Linked DNA regions of Homo sapiens: region 1 is linked to region 2. A link means that fine-mapping ties the variant in region 2 to the expression of a gene that starts in the linked region. Tissue or cell type: whole blood. Region 2 holds a variant in brackets; the other region holds the start of a gene. All regions are shown on one strand. Distances are between the middles of the regions. Region 1 holds the start of LINC02757 (long intergenic non-protein coding RNA 2757). Region 2 holds the start of LRRC32-AS1 (LRRC32 antisense RNA 1).

Evidence for each region. PIP is the estimated chance that this variant, and not a neighbour inherited with it, causes the effect.
Region 1: it holds the start of LINC02757, and the variant in region 2 is fine-mapped to the expression of LINC02757 in whole blood (INTERVAL, PIP above 0.99).

The regions. Positions count from the first base shown.
Region 1 is chr11:76,626,097-76,635,392 of GRCh38, forward strand. LINC02757 (long intergenic non-protein coding RNA 2757) reads right to left here and starts at 4,326. Exons shown (of 5, transcript NR_187244.1): 1 at 4,095-4,326; 2 at 2,308-2,385; 3 at 477-1,129. RefSeq lists enhancers at 3,391-3,750, 4,209-4,503.
Region 2 is chr11:76,649,016-76,658,137 of GRCh38, forward strand. LRRC32 (leucine rich repeat containing 32) reads right to left here. Exons shown (of 3, transcript NM_001128922.2): 3 at 8,509-9,122. It overlaps LRRC32-AS1 (LRRC32 antisense RNA 1), which reads left to right and starts at 7,981. Exons shown (of 3, transcript NR_199061.1): 1 at 7,981-8,141. RefSeq lists an enhancer at 4,754-5,277. The variant G/C (reference allele first, on the strand shown) is at 5,712.

The DNA.
Region 1 (9,296 bases), 23 kb before region 2:
CCTAGTAAGTTTTCATGTCAATTCTATCACATTCTTTTCATGGAGGCCATCTCAAAGGCATGCCCAGTTTCAAGGGGAAGAGCAATGGACTCCATCTCCTGATGGGGAATGACAAGTTTCCAGGGTATAGAATTAGGAACACTCCTGAGATCATTTTTGGGAAATTTCAGTCTACCATAGGGACCTCCTCTTCTGGCCTCTCCTGGGTGGTTCCACTTCCCTGACCTGGCAGGACACTTCTGGGAGCTCGACCAATGCTGCTCCTCTCACCCCAGCTTTGGAAGCATAGATGTCAATGGGGGGAGGAGCAGAGCCAGTGAGTGGCTGTGTACTGAGCACTGGCTGCATCCCAGGCCCCCCCCGGGTGCTTGTGTGCCTTCTTTCATTAGATCCCCACCATACTCCCACATCATGTGCAGTGTGGCTCCTATTTTTTCAGTGAGGAAACTGAGGCTGAGAGAGGTGAGGTGACTTACCAAGACCACCAGGGCTCATCAGGGAGGCTGGGATTTGAAGCCAGGTCTGCGTAGCTCTGAAGGCCTTTTTCTTGCCACTGCACAGCTGTCCACAGGCTCAAGATAGGGAAGACCCCACAGGGAGAGGGATTAAGGATAGTGACCTTAGGATCAGAACAAATTGGGTCCAAACTGAAGCTCCTTAACTTTGAGCAGGTCACTTCATTGCTCTGAGCCTCAGTCTCCTCATGAGTCCAGTGGAGCTATGGCCTCCACATCACAGATGTAAGAAAACATAATGAAATAAAATAATATTTGCTATAAGCTTGGCACAGCCTCTGGCTCATCATGCATGGGACCCAGGCCACCCAGCCCCTTCCTAGACAGGACCTGCTTGCCTGTGGGGAGTGAGCAGGTTGGTGGCTGCCTGAGGACTGGGCCTGCTGCCACTCACCAAGGGGGAGCCCCTGGGTTCCTGTTGGCTATTTTTAGGACTGTGTGGGCAACCACAGAACCACATGTGGGGTTTACCACCGCTTGGCCAAGCCCGGAAGAACAAGAGAATGCTCCTGACGACAGAGGACAGGCATCTGAGGTGGGATGGGCCTCACTTCCTTCCCAGCATCTCCAGGTTGACAAAGGCAGAGAGCCTCTCCAAGCCTCAGTTTCCTCATCTATAAAATGGGGATAATAGTAAAAACAATAGCCCACATTTTTGCAGTCCTCACCATGTGCCAGATGCCAGTCAAGCCCTTCATGGGTGTCATCTCACGTGATCTGTGATTCCCGTGAGGGAGGCTGGAAGAGGCGGAAGTTGCTCAGCTAGAAGAGGGGTCAGAAATGGAACCAGGCCTGGCTCTTTTAACCACTCTGCTCCCAGCCTCTCCAAACAGACTAGAAGAAAGGTCACAAGGATTAGCTAAGAGTACGGATGTGGATGTCTTTTTTAAACTGTAAGAGAATGTCAACCAAACAGGCCCAGGAACAGGGACAATGTAGGCTAGGAGCTTAGGACTATGCTCCGTGGAGACGCCTCCAAAAAAATCAAGCTTTGAAAGCTACTACTGAGAGGTGGACTAAAGACCAGAGGTGGCAGCAAGATTTCCCTGGTCCACAGCAGTTCTCAGAGGAGCCCCAGACTCAGGCCCACCCACTTCCTCATTCACGTGGGTCCCTGACAAGCTTACCTTTTGGGTCCAGGAAACCATGTTCCTGGAAGAGCCACCAGCCATGGTTAGGACTCAGAAGTTCTGTAATTTCCCAACAGGAAAAGACAGAAAAGGGCAACAGGGCATGTGTGTGCCCACACAGACATTTGCCTGCGACCATGTGCACTCACACCACGTGAATCGCACATGCGCACAGGCAAATATACCTATCCACACACTCATAGACCTCCAGCCGCACCTGTTCACACAGGCACACACACACACATACACATCGCACCCATATTCCTGTATTAAGATGCACCTATGGAGTATGTACAGATGTTACACAAACATCCACACACATCCCATACGCTTAAATGGATCAGCATAAATACACAAACATGCATCTATGCACAAAGTATAAACACATGCAAATACACATATTTACATATGTCCAGTCATCATACACTTCCGTGGATAAACAGGTACATGTACTCAATTCACTTATTGTGTAAAGTTGTATACACATTGCAACTCACACAAACACATGCATGCATATACACACACGGGTATACATATGTGCTTAATAATGGTTGGCACAGATCCATAAGCATCCACATGTATATATCACCACCACGCATCATAGCCATCTGCATCAGCACATGCAAACTCGTGTGCACACACCTGCATGCACACACTCTTACCTGCATGCCTGCAGCTCGCCCATGCTGCACACGGTGTGTACACCTTGCCTTTTCTGGCTCCTTTGTTGCTGAGCGATCCTGCAAAGGTGCAGAAACACAAACACCTAGTTCCACTTCACCTGAAAACCCCCAAACCCTGGGTGCGTGGGAGGGTGAACCAGATGCCCTCCCTGTTGGGGGCACAGTGGAAATTATGACCCGAGTTGACTTTTACAACAAGAGCAAAGGTGAGGGGTTTTTCCACCCGGTTACCTCACTGTGTTGGGGCTGACCAGGGCCACCCCTGCTAATCCACCTCCTGTGGGCCCCTCCAATTACCCAGGGTGCTCAGGTTCAACACAGGCTCCACATCTCCTTAGTTTACTCAGCAGTTAATGAGCAAGAGCCTGGACCCACCTGTGTGTCAGGCCCTGGGCTGAGGGTTGGGCTGGGGAGATGCGGTGGATCTGGCCCGGCCCATGCAGCTGGAAGGTGGGAGGAGGCCTGGTTGGTGGGGTCTGTGGGAGGCTCTAGGTCAAATTCCTAAAAATGGATCTGCTTGATGACCAGCTTGCCAACTGATCAGGTTTTCAAATGACCAATTTGCCAAATATACCAAACTTACCAATTTACTATTCATTTTTTCCAAAGTATATAGCAATTGTATTGGATAGATTGACACTGGTTTTCATTTCATCTTCATAGTTCATTTTAAGGAATGTTTAGATGGTCAAAAGCTAAGTGTCAGGGAGTGGTTTCATTTAGTAAAGGCACTTAACATTTGGAATTGGAGAGGGACTTTCTGGGAACATCTACCAGGAATGGGGCATTCTGGGAGCTCTGTAGCAAGACAGGCCTTCAGGGACCACCTGACTCCCCAGAGCCATGTGGCCTGTGCCTGGGTTGTCCTCTGACTGGCTCTGTGTCCTGTGCCAGGCCCCTTCTCCTGTCTGGGTCGCAGTCTCCTGGCTATAAAGAGCTCAGCTTTTGGGCCTTGCTGATGTTTGATGAGACCCTGGAGCTACCTGTGACCTCAGTCTCCGAGTGTGGCCAGGGTCCAGGCCATGGGAGCCAGAGAAGCTGCTGACTCTGCTGAGGGCAGCCCAGCCCTGCTTGGAAGTCAAGGCTGTTGTGTTGGTGCCTGTATCTGAACTGTGACATTTCTGGGTCCTGTCCCCAGCCCCAGGCAGAGGGGCCTTGCTTGCTGTGTGCGGGGAGCATGGGGCTGCAGAGGGTGGGGCCCAACTAACTTTCCTTTCCTGGTAACACGCTTGCTAAGCTCATTTCCTTTTTCTGAAGGGAAATGCCATTGACATCACACCACTGGATTTTCAGTGACGCAAGATGAGAACTCGTGAGCCCTTCGCAGGCAAGAAGGGTGCACGTGTGGGCTGGGCACAGATCTGACCCGGGGCAGATTCGGAGAACCTCTGATCTGAGGCTCCTAGCCCTTGCTTTAGAGATGGGGACCCCTAGGTCAGAGAGGGGTAGAGACATGCCCTGGGTTCCACAGCCAGACAGCAGGGCTGGGGCCAGATCCCAGGCCCCTGTCTCCCAGCCCAGGGCTCTAGATGAAGGGGCCTGACTTGCCCTCTCAACCTATCTTAATAGTGGCACCAACATCCACCAAGTTGCCTAGGCCACAAACGGGTCTCACTGCACTCCTCCCTCCCAGCACCCTCCTCCTGGCAGCAGCACTCATAGCTGTCTCCTGCAGTCCATCACAGGCCACTCCCTGGCTCAGGCCACCTTGTCTTCTCCAGGACCCCAGTCCAGGAAATACCTGGCCACTGCTCAGGCCTCCCTACCTACATCCAGGCTTCTCCCTCCAGTCCATCTTCTGTTCAGCTGCCTGGGTGACTTGGCTAAAACACAGAGCCCACAGTGTCAGTCCCCAGGGCAACCCTTCCAGGGCTCCTTGGCTGGGCATCCCAGACTCTCCGTGGTGCTTGCGCCTCCTTCCAGCAGCTGCCCCTGACACGCCCCTTTGCTCCCTCGGTGCAGAAGCTGCCTGCCCTCTTCAGAGTGTGCATCCTCTCTGCATTTGCTGTTCCTGCGCCGTTTCCTCTTTGGGAACTCCTCCCTCTGCAGGCACGTTCCTGTTTTTGCTCACTCCTGAGGAAAGCTCACACGGCCCGATCTCCCTTCCCCCACCCCAGCCTTGGAGGGAACGTCTAGGTCTTCCTCCCCACCTCCTTGACAGCAGCAAAGACATTTTATTGTGGAAAATTTCAAACACACAACAAAAATAGTACAAAAACTACTGTGTATTCCTCACCCAGCTTCGACCCTCCCCGACTCAGGGCCACTCTTGTTTCATTTCTATCCCCCAACTCCTCCCCACTGGATTACTCAGAGCAAATTTAAACATCAGATAATTTTATCCACAAATACTACAAGGAGTTGGGCGCAGTGGCTCATGCTTATAAATCCCAGCAACTTGGAAGGCTGAGGTGGGCAGATGACTTGAGGCCAGGAGTTCACCACCAGCCTGAGCAACATAGCAAGGCCCTGTCTCAAAATAAATATTGCAGTCTGTATTTCTAAAAGATAAAGGCATGGCCAGAAACTATTATCCTGCCTACATTTTTAATAATAATTTTTTATTATCATAGTATATAGTGGTGTTTAAATTTCCCCAATAAACCAGGCGTGGTGGCTCACACTTGTAAGCGTGATTACTCCAGATTACTCCAAATCATGCTTCTAAGTATAATTACTCCCAGAACTTTGGCAGGCTGAGGCAGGAGGATCACTTGAGCCCTGGAGTTCAAGGCCAGCTGTCTTCCAAATAAAAAAATTCCCCATTGTCTAACAAAGATCTTTTACAGATCTTTTAAAGTTGATTTGTTCAAAATCAGGATCTACACAAGTTCCATACATTGCATTTGATCGTTTTCTCTTAAATCTCTTTCAATCTTTTCTACTTCCTCTCTCTTTTTTGGGGGGGGAGGGGGTGGTTTTTTTTTTTATTTTGAATCAGGGTCTAACTCACTCTGTCACCCACGTTGGTATGCAGTGGCATGATCTTGGCTCACTGTAGCCTCAACCTCCTGGGCTCAAGTGATCCTCCCACCTCAGCCTCCTGAGTAGCTGGGACCACAGGCATGCGCTACCATGCCTGGCTAATTTTTTGTAGTTTTTGTAGAGACAGGGTTTCGCCATGTTGCCCAGGCCGGTCTCAAACTCCTAAGCTCAAGTGATCCTCCCACCTCAGCCTCCCAAAGTGCTGGGATTACAGGTGTGAGCAACTGAGTCTGGTCTCTCCTTATTTTTTATTTTTATTTTGTCTTGAGACACTGTCTCACTCTGTTCCCCATGCTGGAGTGCAGTGGTGTGATCTCGGCTCACTGCAACCTCCACCTTCCAGGCTCAAGTGATTCAGCCACCTCAGGCTCCCAAGTATTAATAGCTGTGACTACAGGCATGTGCCACCACACTGGCTAATTTTTGTATTTTTTTTTTTTTCATGGAAGATGGGGTTTTGCCATGTTGCCCAGGCTGGTCTCAAACTCCTGGGCTCAAATGATCTTCCCACCTCAGCCTCCCAAAATGCTGGGATTTCCTGTTTTAAAAAAATATATATATATATATTTGTTGACTAAACAAAGTTGTTGATCCCATGTAGTTTTCCACCTTCTGGCTGCATTCCCCCATAGTGTTATTTAACACATTCCTCAGTTTCCTGCCTTTCCCGTAAATTGGTAGTTAGATCTAAACACTTGATTAGACTCAATGTGCTAGGAAGAATGCTTCATAGGTGGCGTGTCTACTTCCCTCAGAAGGAACATCATATTTATAATGTTTGGTTGTCTCTCCTTTTGTGCCTTTAGAAGGCTGTGATGATCATTGCCTATATCTATTATTTCATTAGAGAATTACAAAACAATGATGTTTTAATTTTATCATTCTTTCTTCATTTATTAGCTGGAACACTTCTATGGAGAAAAACTTCTCTCCTGATGCTTTGGTTCCCCTAAGGTACAATTGGTTTAGGAAGGACAGAACTAATGCTGGCTGATTTCCCCTTTACTTATCAGTTTTCAGAATAATGAGCTGATTCCCTCACAGTCTCTAGAGGTGATCAGCAAAGTTTTTTTTTGTTGGTTTTGTTTTTTTTTTTAAATTATTATCTAATATTTTTAAATGCATTTGAAAATTTTCAATTTATTGCAGTTATTAACCTTGTTGTCACTCAAATTGTCCCACCTTTGGCCCATAGAGATCTCTTGGTCATCTGAGTCCTTTTGGCCTGACCCTAGTGGTGTTTAATACTGTCCTGACTTTCTGGTATAACGAGATGTCCAGGTTTGTCTTGTGTTTTTTCCGCCTGGACCTGGAATTAGATATTTCTTCAAGAAGCCCTGGTTCTTTTTTACAAGAAGTGGCATTTAGAAACCACAAATCTGGGTGTGAGGTGTGAGATATGCTGAGTTGGTCTTTGCTTTTAGATCTTCTCAAGGTGCAGAGCTAGGAAATTTTTTTCTTAAGAAGATATATATCAAGGGTTCATATTGATAGTTTGAATAAAACCTTCAGCTATAGGGCTTTTACATAAGTATTTTGATTTTGTATCTGAATCTCTTTTGTCTAATGCTGAACATCTTGCTTCCTAACAACATTGACATTATTACTGATTCATTTCTCCTACTTTCTTTCTATATATACATATTATAAAAATATCAGAATAATAACACCAATAGTGGTATTAATAATATGATTACTGAAAATACTTTATAATTTGTCTGTGATTCTTTTATCCTTAGAATATATAGCCTACTAGTCAAGCTATAGTCAAGTTACCAGGTTTCTAAATCACTTAAAATAATTCAGCTTTGCTTGGTGAAGAAAACAATTCAATACACAGATTTATTGATTTCATTTTGCTCTTTATTTGGGGTGATTGCTTTTGACTTTTATTTAGATTTAATTTTGTTTTATTTTTATGGAAAGAATTTATGTACTTCTAAAGCTAACCTATATAATAAGGTATATTCAGAGAAGCCTGGCTTCTACTCCATTCCCTTACCACACTTCCTCCCCACTCCAGCAGACAACAATTGTTTAATTTTATTTTTTATCTTTTAACTGATACTTAATTTTAAAAACACGCATGTATTTGTGTATTCCCTCCTTTTTGTTGGATAAAACGATAACGTACTATATGCATTTTAGTCCACTCTGCTTTTCAGTTAACGTTGTACCCAGCCCGGAGGTCACACTGTCATGACACGCATGCAGAGATCTTCTTCATCCGCCCCCCCCTTTTTTTTTTTTTTTTCTTTGACGGAGTCTTGCTCTGTTGCCAGCCTGGAGTGCAGGGGCGTGATCTCCACTCACTGCAACCTCCGCCTCCTGGGTTCAAGCAATTCTCCTGCCTCAGCCTCCCAAGTAGCTGGGATTACAGGCATGCGCCACCACGCCTGGCTAATTTTTTTTGTATTTTTATTAGAGACGGGGTTTTACCATATTGGCCAGGCTGGTCTCCAACCCATGATCTTGTGATCCACTCACCTCGGCCTCCTAAAGTGCTGGGATTACAGGCATGAGCCACTGCGCCTGGCCTCCTTCCTTTTTCTAGCTACAGAGTTGTCTATTGTGTGGTCAAGCTGCCCCTACTGATGGACATTTGAGTGGTTTCTAGTTTTTTTACAATTACAAATGATGCTGCCATGAATAGCTTTATGAATCTGTCTTCTCTTATTTTTGCCAAGAGGGGATTGCCAGGGTAAAGGGTAAATTCAAATGTAATTTTGCGGCAAAAGTTCCCCTCCAGGTAGGGCTTGCACCATTTTGTTTTCCCACCAGACAATGTACGAGAGGGGCCTCTTTTCCCACAGTCTCGCCCACAGAGCACGTTCTCAAACTTTTGAGTTTTTGCCAATCTAATAGACTAGAAATGATATCTTGGCTTAGCTTTAATTGGCATTTCTCTGATTATGAAGAAGGTTAGACATTTTTCCATATGTTTACATTCTGGTTCATGTTTGGGTCCCTAGTGCCCAGCACAGGGCCTGGCACAGGTGAGTCCCTTCTCGAATGAAGGAAAGGAGGAACAGATGAACAGACAAGGAGGAAATGAACTTTGGAAGAGGGTCGCTGACTTGCCCAAGGTTGTGTCCAGTTATCACCGGAGTTGGGAATAGAATTAATCTCTTCTTTTTCTCTATGTCTAATTCATTTTTCCTGATTATAAAAATAAATAGAAGTTCATACTATTAAATAGAAAGTTTGGAAAGCACAGGAAAGTATAAACATATGAAACATTTTAATCTTTCTACCCTAACTCAATCATTTTCTAGCATTTTTGGATATTTCCTCCCAGATTTTATGCATTTTTTCCGTTACGATCACACTACATACATGCGTTTGTATTCTGTCCTTTTTCACTTAACACTTCTCCACATTAATAACAATTGTTTGCAAACATAATTTTAATGGCTGTACAATTTTTCACTATCTGAATATACATGAATGTATTTACCCTTGCTGTTACTGCTAGACTTCTAGATTGTTTCCAGATTTTTGCTATTATAAATAAATTCTGCCATGTTCTTCTTTGTCCACCTTCTGGATATTTGTCTCTCAGGATTAATTCCTGGAAGTGGAGCTCCTGGAATTTCAGCTTTGAGCTCCAAGTTTGGGGTTTTTCTTGGCCATGCTTGGAGGGGATTGTTTGTAGGAAGCTCTGGCCCTGTGACTTCACAGAGCCCCGGGCCTGGCCTGCTTCTCCACATCTGTGATGTTCGGTAGAGACTCACTTGCACCCACGTTGAATCAGCAGACGGGCAGAGCAGGGAGCACCAGAGCCTGCTGAGGATGAGGAGTCAGAATCTCTTACCTTTTGCCCCCTGGCTCATTCCTAAGGCTAAGGACAGATAACCTGCAACCAACAAGGGGAAACTGCACACGGACAAGGTCAAACCTGGTGGAGGGCGCAGGGCAGGTAGGAATGCTGAGCAGACGTGGTCTGTGCTTTGTAAGCATTCATGGTGCAGTGGAGCAGATGC
Region 2 (9,122 bases):
GTCTTTATTTCCTTAGGATAAACTCCTAGAAACAGAATTGCTAGATTAAAGCAGATGCACATTTTTAAGATTCTTGGAACGTATTGCCAAAGGGCCCTCCAGAATAGGTGATTTCATTTACACTCCCACTCTGCCTTGAATGAGAACAACCACAACTGGGGCAGTTTCTAAGGGATTGTGTTTCCTTGTTATTGTGACTTGGTTGTAGCTGACATTCCCACCTTTTCCCGAAAGTAGAGGTTTTGATCTGAGATCCACGGGATCTGTGGGTAGAATTCTTGGGGTCTGTGAACTTGGTTGAGAAAAAATTACGTCTTTATTTTCATCATTAGCTTCTCATTGAAATGTAATCATTCTTTCCATCTTGAATGTAGCCACGAATCCCCATAGTATTCAGAGTACAAATGACTTTAGCAGTCCTGTAACCAACAGAAATCACACGTTTTCCTGCCTTCTTACAGATCTCTCAGAATATCATTTATGCTCATCGGTGCTTCAAAATTACAGTAGTTATTAGACTTGCCACTAGATCTTGTTATGTAATGTGCTCATAAAGAACATGTATTACTAATTCACAATTTATTTTTTAATATTTTGATAAGCAGTCAATAGAATTGGTTTCCTTTGTAATCATGTGTATTTTTTATTTTATGAATTTGAAAACCTTATCCTGAAAAGAAGTCCTTAGGCTTCACCAGACTGCCAAGGCATAATAAAGTTCAGAACCCTTATTGTATGGGTCAACTCACATATCTTTAAAACTTACTGAAGGAAAGGAATTAAGCTTTCATGAACCCCTGCCTGGAGCCAGGCTCTAGGGGTACATGCTGGGGGTACAGAAGGGGCAGGATGACCTCCTGCTTTTGAGGAGCTCATAGTCTAGGTAGGACATGTGATTTCACAGCTCCTGCCACTCATTGTCCTGTGGGCTGAGGGCCCAGTTTCTCAGATCTTTCAGGATTTTAAGAAAAATTAGAAATCCAGATTTTTATATGTTCCCGTGTAAAACAACTCTTACAATTTTTAAATGTTGGCAACTAATCAAAATTTTTATAAACCACTGTGTGGGCCAAATAAAGCATGTCTGAAGGCTAAATCTGGCCCAAAGGCCACCAGTTTTCAACCTTTGCTCTAGGAAAGCTGAATTCCAGTGAGGGTGGGACAAATTCATTCTGTGGAACAAAGCAGCAGAGAACCTGAGCACCCCCACCCATACCCTACTCTGCTCCTGTAAACCAGGGAAACAGGGAACTGGAGTCTTAGCTTTGAGAAGAGAGGAAATGAGAGAAGAAATTCTATTGTGGGCAGTGGGATTCCCTGTAACCTGGGTGCAGGCCGGGTGAGGAAAGACATGGCTGGAGGTAGATGCTACTGTAGTGAGAGTGTCAAGGGAATTGTGGGAGCAATGAGGCAATTAAATTATTGTATATCTAGAAAACCTCAGAGCCTCTAGCAAATAAGATAAAATAACTGCAAAAGAAAAACATATTTGAATTATTAAGAAAAAATGATGTTATTAGATATAAGATAAATGTACAAAAACCAGTTGCTTTTCTTATTTTTGACAATAAATGCATAGAAACGGAAATAGAAAAAATATTCCCATTATGATATTGACAAAAACGATATTCAGAAATAAATGTAACAAGAAAGATATAGGGTCTCTATGAAGAAAGGTATACAATCTTGTAGCAACATAGAACACAAGATCTGAGGCTGGGCGTGGTGGCTCATGCCTGTAATCCCAGCACTTTGGGAGGCTGAGGTGGGTGGATCACCTGAGGTCAGGAGTTTGAGACCAGCCTGGCCAACATGGCAAAGCCCCATCTCTAATAAAAATACAAAAATTAGCCGGGTGTGGTGGCACATACCTGTAGTCCCAGCTACTCAGGAGGCTGAGGCAGAAGAATCGTTTGAACCCAGGAGGCAGAGGTTGCATTGAGCCAAGATTGCAACGCTGCACTCCAGCCTGGGTGACAGCAAGACTCCGTCTCAAAAACAACAACAACAACAACAACAACAAAAAAAGAGAACACAAGATCTGAACAAATGGAAAGATACATCATACTCTTGGATGGGAAGACTTAATATAGAAATGTCAAACCTTCCAAAATCAATTCCAAACAGAGTGCAATGATCTTGATGTTTATATGAAGCAATAAATTCCTGAGAATAGCCAAAAAGACATGAAAAATAGTAACAGTACAAGATGACTTGTCTTGCAGGTATCAGAACCAACTCTAAAACCAATCATTAGAGTAATGGTATAGAAACAGAGAAATAGATTAGTGAAAAAAAAAAGAAATCCAGAAATAGATCTCAAATATATATCAGAATTTAATATCTGACAGAGTAACCTTTTAATTACTTAATAAGCAATGCTTTCAAAATTACTATTCATTTTGAAGCAAGTAAAATTGGATGATTATTCAACTTCAAAATAAAAAACACATCTCAGGTTGGCTGGGCGTGGTGGCTAACACCTGTAATTCTAGCACTTTGGGAGGTTGAGGCAGGAGGATCTCTTGAGCCCAGGAGTTCAAGACCATCCTGGGCAACATAGGGAAACCCTCTCTCTATTTAAAAAAAAAAAAAAATCAACAACATCTCAGGTTATGTAAAGATTTAAATGTAAAATAAAAAACAAGATAACAATTTTGGTTTTTTTTTTTTTTTTTTTTTTTGAGATGGAGTTTTGCTCTTGTCACCCAGGCTGGAGTGCAGTGGCACCATCGCGGCTCACTGCAACCTCTGCCTCCTGGGTTTAAGCGATTCTCCTGCCTCAGACTCCTGAGTAGCTGGGATTACAGGCATGCACCACCAGGTTTGTCTAACTTTTTTTGTATTTTTAGTAGAGACGGAGTTTCACCATGCTGTCCAGGCTGGTCCTGAACTCCTGACCTCAGGTGATCCACCCACCTCGGCTTTCCAAAGTGCTGGGATTAGACATGTGAGCCATCGCACCTAGCCAACATAACAAATTTTACAAGAAAATTTAGGAGACTATATGAGCAACCTGAGTGAAACTTAATAAAATTGAGAAGCGATTAAGGAAAAGTGAGACCTTGGAAAACATTGTAGGCCAAAAGATACATAAGCAGGGTCAATAGACAAACGAATTATGGAAATGTGAGACAAAGTTTAAGATCTACAACATACAATAAGGATTTACAAATTAATAAGAAATAGTTAACTCAGTAGAAAAATGGGCAAAGGATAAAAATGGGTAATTCACAGAAGAGTTCATCCAAATGGCCAAAAATACAAATGAAGACGTGCTCAGCTCCAGCAGCAGGAAAATGCAATTTAAAGTAACAATGAGAGATCGTTTTATACCCACAGCTAAAACCTGCATTTCTGGTAGGGAGGCACAGGATAAGATACTTTCATACGTTGTTTGCGGAAATGTGAAACATTACTGTTTTTTTGAAATGCAAACTTTATTAAAAGTATATATAATATACATTAAAAGTGTATAAAATATATATATCTCCATTGATTTACTTCTAGGCATTCATTCCATGAGAACACAAACCCTAGAGAGTATAGGCATAGGAATAGAATTTTTTGCCTCATGTTTATAGTTAAAGAAAAGATAAAGCTATTGTTCATCAATAGGTGAATGGCTGAATAAATCGTGCAATATTCACGCTATGGAATATTATGTAATGTCAAAAATTATGTGAAACTTATATCAGTTTATTTCGGGGGATTTCCTTGAAGTACTATTGCATAAAAAAGCGAAATGCAAGAGAGTATAATAGAATATGATCCCATTTTTGTAAAATAACAATTAAAATCTCTAATACTTGCATATGTGTGTTTGCATACAATGTAAATGTGTCTGTCAGTGATTACTCAATTAAGGAGAAAACATACAGGAGGTTGGATACAGTGGGTTATCTGGGGTCAAAGGGGAGGGTAGTACAAGCTGACATGAGCAGTGTGGAAAGTGAGGAGGGAGACATTATTGGCTCATCCTCCACCAAAAAAATAAAATAAAATAAAAAAGCACGGGCCTTTGGAATTGGACTCCCTCATCCTGCAGCCTAGCTAGCCCCCTCCCCCCAAAATGCGTGACTCCCTTGGGCATCCCTCCCACCACCCTATACGTGGCCTTCCATGTGTTTTCCATGATGCTAGAATAGGGCAGTCAAGTCACCAAGTCGCAGGGAGGGGCCAGGGCTGGGGGGCTGCTTTCAGTGCATGAGAAAGGACCTCAGGGTCCAGAGTTCAGGCCCCATTCTCCCCAGGCGACTTGGCAAATTCATGAGAGTGAGTGGAAGAGGCCACGGAGTATTAATTGACTTGTTCTCTCAACTGAAGTCCTCCTTCCGTCTTAGCTGACAGGTCATGTCCTCAGAAAGGATTCTTCTGAGTCCCACCCCTCAGTGATCTTGCCCTTCACTCCCTTTCATAGCCCTCATTACAATTTGCCATCGTTTTTGTTTGTGTGTGATTAATGTCTATTTCCCAAGCGCCACAAGAGGAGGAACGCTGCCTGTGCAGCACCCAGTATGAGATGCGGCAGGGTCCCGGCAATGCTGGCTGCTTTCAGTCATTTGCTCACTCACTCTCTCCTTCATTGACTCAATCTTTTCTGCATTTCTTTATTCATTTTTTCCCTTATTCACTCCAGAAACATGCTATTGGTCCATGCCTTTTCCCGATCTGAATCTTCCGCTTTCTAGGGTGGCTTTTTCAGAGAAGGAGGGAGTGGGGACATGATGGCAGAATTCTGGGAATGCATCCACAACTTGGGAGGGCCTAGCTGGGTGAGTTGGAAGCTCTCCAGGGAAGGAGGGAAGATTTCAGAAGGCTGGAAGTCCTGAGCAGAAGGTGCTGAATGAGGAGAGAGGAGAAAGTGATGCGATGGAGGCTGGGCCAGGCAGACCCCTCTACTCCCAGACATGCCCTGGCTCTTCCTGCTGCCAGGCCTTGGGTCCTGCCATTTGTTCTGCCTGGAAAGCCTCTTCCCATCTCCACGTGTTGAAATCCTACCCTTCCTTGCAGAGCCAGCCCAGATGTCCTCGAAGTCTTGCCTCACTTCTCCAGCTGGAAGGGCTGCTCCCTGCTGCAAACAAACTTCCCGAGCACAAAATCTGGACCTCCCTCAAGGCGCTGACCACTTCCTGGCTTGGGTTGTGGTGTGGCCCCTCTCTCCACCCCATAGACAGAGGCTCTGTCCAACTGTTCCCTGTATCCCGCAGGGCCTAGGGCCCAGCACAGAGCAGATGCCCAAGCCACTCTGGCCGAACGAATGAGCAGTGCTGAGTTTGGGGGTGTGGGCGATGATTATGACCCCATTTTACAGATGCAGAAATAGAGGTGCAGCTAAGTGACGGTCTTGGCCTTGGTCCCACAGTGAGGAAGCAGCAGAACCTAGACTCAGGCCCGTGTTTCTGGTCCCAGAGGCCAGACTCTTTCCAGGGCAGCTTGGTGGGAGGTGAGGTAGGGTGGGGTGGAGTGAGACTGGATCCTGGGAACCAGGAGGCCAGGGAGAGCTGGAGTTCGGACGGCCAAGTTCACGGAAAGCGCAGCTGGGGAGGAGCCAAGGTATTTATTATGCTTGGTCTCCAGTTCCAAACAGAGCTGATGGATGGAGCTGCTCCAGTTCCTATAAACAGCTCGGGCCTCCCTCTCCCCCACCCCGCCCTCCCCATTCTCAGCCACCACAGCCCAACTGTTTCCAGTGCGATAGGGGTGGGGGT[G/C]GGGGGAGATGACCAAGAAGAGAAGAATGGGAGACGAGGGGGAGCAAAGGAGGGGGGGAGGACAAAGATAAGACGGGGTCCTAGAGGCCTGAGGAAGCTGCAGGGAATGGAGGGTGGTCAGAGAGGATTCTTTGCCTCCCCACTGGCCCCTGCTGCCGTGGGCAGCCCACAGTCTGCATTCCCCTGTCCTCTCTGTGTCCCCTAGGTCTGTTCAAAAAGCCTCCTCACCACACTCTCTGAGGGCTTGTCTCAACTCCACAAGCTTCTGAGTCCTGGAAGACAGGGGCCATTCACTCAGAAAACCTTTTCTGAGCTGGCTTTAGTCTGTGTTGGCTCACAGGCCCTGGGGACAGATAGGACTCCAGGTAGGACCTCCCCCCAGGACCTCCTGGCCTGGTGGGTGGGTCAGGCAGACACCCAATGCTGAGGGCAGCCCAGACCTGTGGGCAGCTGGAGGAGAGAAATCCAGACAGTCTCCCCAGAGAAGGTGATGGAGGTGATACAGGCGAGGGTGGTGAAGGAGATTGTGCAGGTGGGTGGGGGGGTGAGCTGGTTCCGGCAGAGGAGGCGGGAGAGGTGCAGGAGGCAGTGCTGCCTAATGGTTAAGACTGCTGGCTCCAGAGTGGGACAGCCTGGGTTCAAGTCTCATCGCTGGAGCTCAGTTCTCTAAAATGAGGATGGTAACAGTAGAAATCTCTTCAACGGCTGTCAGAATTAAACATGACAATCCACATCCAGTGCTCAGCATGGGCCCGCCCGGAAGTGCTCAACAATGGCCATCTCTGAGCATGTTGTGAGAGGTGGCGGGAGAGAGATGGGCCTCATGGGCTCAGTGAACTGCCTGAAGGACAGGGGCACAGAACACAGACGGTGGGTCCCAGATCCTGGAGGATGTGGCCAGCCTGTGGGTCTGAGAGGGTGAGTTGCTGGCGCGTCCCGGGACCCGTTCCTGGTGGAGTGCCACGCCAGCGCATGGAACCCCAGGAGTTGGGCCCTGCACCTCAGGCTGACTGTGACCTGGGAGTGGCAGGGCCTCCCCTCTCCCTGCAAGCTAAGAGCTCGGGAAGCTGGATGTTCTGATGACCTAGTTGGCTGCTGTGTCCACGTTTGGCTGAAAACAGGAATTTCTGCCTCACCGGGGGTCTTGGCCAGGTGAGCAAACTCCCTGTTTGTCAGGAAAAGGGGTCAGGGGCCTGCTGGGCTCCCTGCTGGAGCAGAGGCCCGCAGACCCTAGGCGAGCTCAGCCCAAGCTCCTGCTTTCCCCTTAGGCCTTCACGGAGCACCTATCGTGTGCCAGGGGGTGGGGCTCTCTCCTTTCTCCCCCAGCCCTACCCCATGAAATAGGTGTTTAGAATTTCCCTTTGCAGACTGGGAGCCAGGAGCAGGAATGGGGAGGTGAGAGGGCACGGACCAGAGAAACGGAAGAATCTCCAGGAGGCAGAGCTGCCAACGCTGGGCCCAGGGGCTGCAGGGCCAAGGGGAGGGGTCCAGGCTGACTCGGGGTGGGCAGGAGAAGCATCACTGAGCAGGAGCTTGGGGGAGAGGCAGTCAGGGAAGGGAAGGGCAAAGGCGCAGTGCCAGGCTGCTGACAGGGCGAAATGGAAGGTGTGAGGGCCAGAGGAATAAGCACCCCCTGCTCTGCATGCTCTGCCCTGGCCTGTCACGCCTCTCAGTGCTCCCCTACCCAGGTGAGGCTGCTTCTGTCCCACACCCGACACTCACCCTCCAACTCCAAGCCAGGAACCAGGTGTGGTTTTCTTCCAAGTTCAACCTTGATCTGCAGCCTGGCTGATCACTGAATTCTCCAGTCCCTGGGGACCTTTAGCCCTCTACCTGGGAAGGCCTCTGGGTAGCAGAATTGGACTTTCAGGAGAGGTGGGGCTGGAGACAGAGATGTGGGCCATCAGAGCAATGGGGTGTTTACAGCAATGAGGCCATAGTGTTCCCAAGGGAAAAGGGCTTAGGATGGAGCCCTGGCCATCACCACTTAAAGCTGGCTCAAGGAAGATGAGCAAAGAGTGGCCTGAAAAGGAGTGGCCTGGGAGGGAGGAGATGGCTTCCTGTGTGGGATCACAGCTGTGGGGAGAGCATGCCCAGCAGGGGTATGGGTGGGGGGCCTGCTGCACAGGGCCTAGGGAGAGGAGGTCTGAAAAGCGTGCTGAGTTTGGCAAAGGATACCCTTGACGCTGTTAGCAAGGGCAGCATGGAGCTGGGAGGGGCTGAAGGCAGCTCCAGGCGGGTTGAGAACGGGAGGGGCGGGAAGGGAAGTGACTTTACCAAGAACCTGGCCTGTGAAGAGTGGGAGGACGAAGGGGAAAGTGGCTGAGGGGCTTCTCACTATTTTTAAGACGGACAAGACTTGAGTCCAGCTGAAGTCTGAGAGGAAGACGTAAACAGGGAGAGGCTGGAGGCAGAAGAGAGCATGACGGGGTAAGGGAGAGAGGACGGGGCTGGGGACCCCAAGGAGGAGGGGCAGTGCAGCCTCTGAGATAGGGCACAGAGGGCTGAGCACAGAGAAGGGGAGGGGGCCTGTAGCTGTAGCAGGAAGGAAACAAACGGAAGCCCTCAGCCTCTCAGCCCTGGGGTGGGGAGCACAGTCGCCTGTTGAGTGTGGGGCAAGAGGTGTAGCAGGGGCCATGCTAGTGGCTGCGGCTTCAAGGTCCAGGGTGGTGCTGGCCCAGAGTCTCAGTGTCCCCAGGGATTTGCCATGATGATTGAACGACCGTAATGGGATTGAGCGGCAGGGTTCTAGTGGACGCAATGAAGCGGATTGCAAAGAGGAAGCTGGCAGCCACACTGCTTCTCCAAAATTAGTTTTTAATACATTCAGGTAGGTTATACAAAGAGTTGGTCCCGAGGCCTGGGCTGAGGCCTGGGCCCTGGGAAGTGACAGCAGCCCTGTGTAGTGTTTTCAAAGATCAGGCGTGGGGACCCACACCTTGGCCTCCAGGCCTAAGGAGGAGTGTTACGTGCAGTAGCACCCGTGGGTGTGATCCCAACCAGGACTGGGTCTGCCTGGGTGCTCCACACACCACCAGGGCCTAGCCCTGGCTCTGCCCATTGACTCTCCCTTAACTTCCTCTGGGCCTTGGTGTTCTCCTCTGTAAAATGGGGTGGAGAGAGTGGCATTTTCACTTTCTCGCACATTACTGAGCCCACATCATGAGCCAGACTGTGGGCCAAGCACAGGTAAGATGATGAAGACAGCAAAACAAGGTCTTGAGTTGGTCCCAGCACGTCCATTCTTCCCAGACAGCTCATGACTCCATGGTATGAGGGATGGGGGTCATCTGGGTGAGGCTTTTTACCTGTTTTTGTAAGAGGGAAAAAAGATCCTTGCATGATGAGGCACAGAAAGGAAGTTTGGAGCCAGCATTATCTTGTGATGTGATAGCTGAGAGAGGACATCAC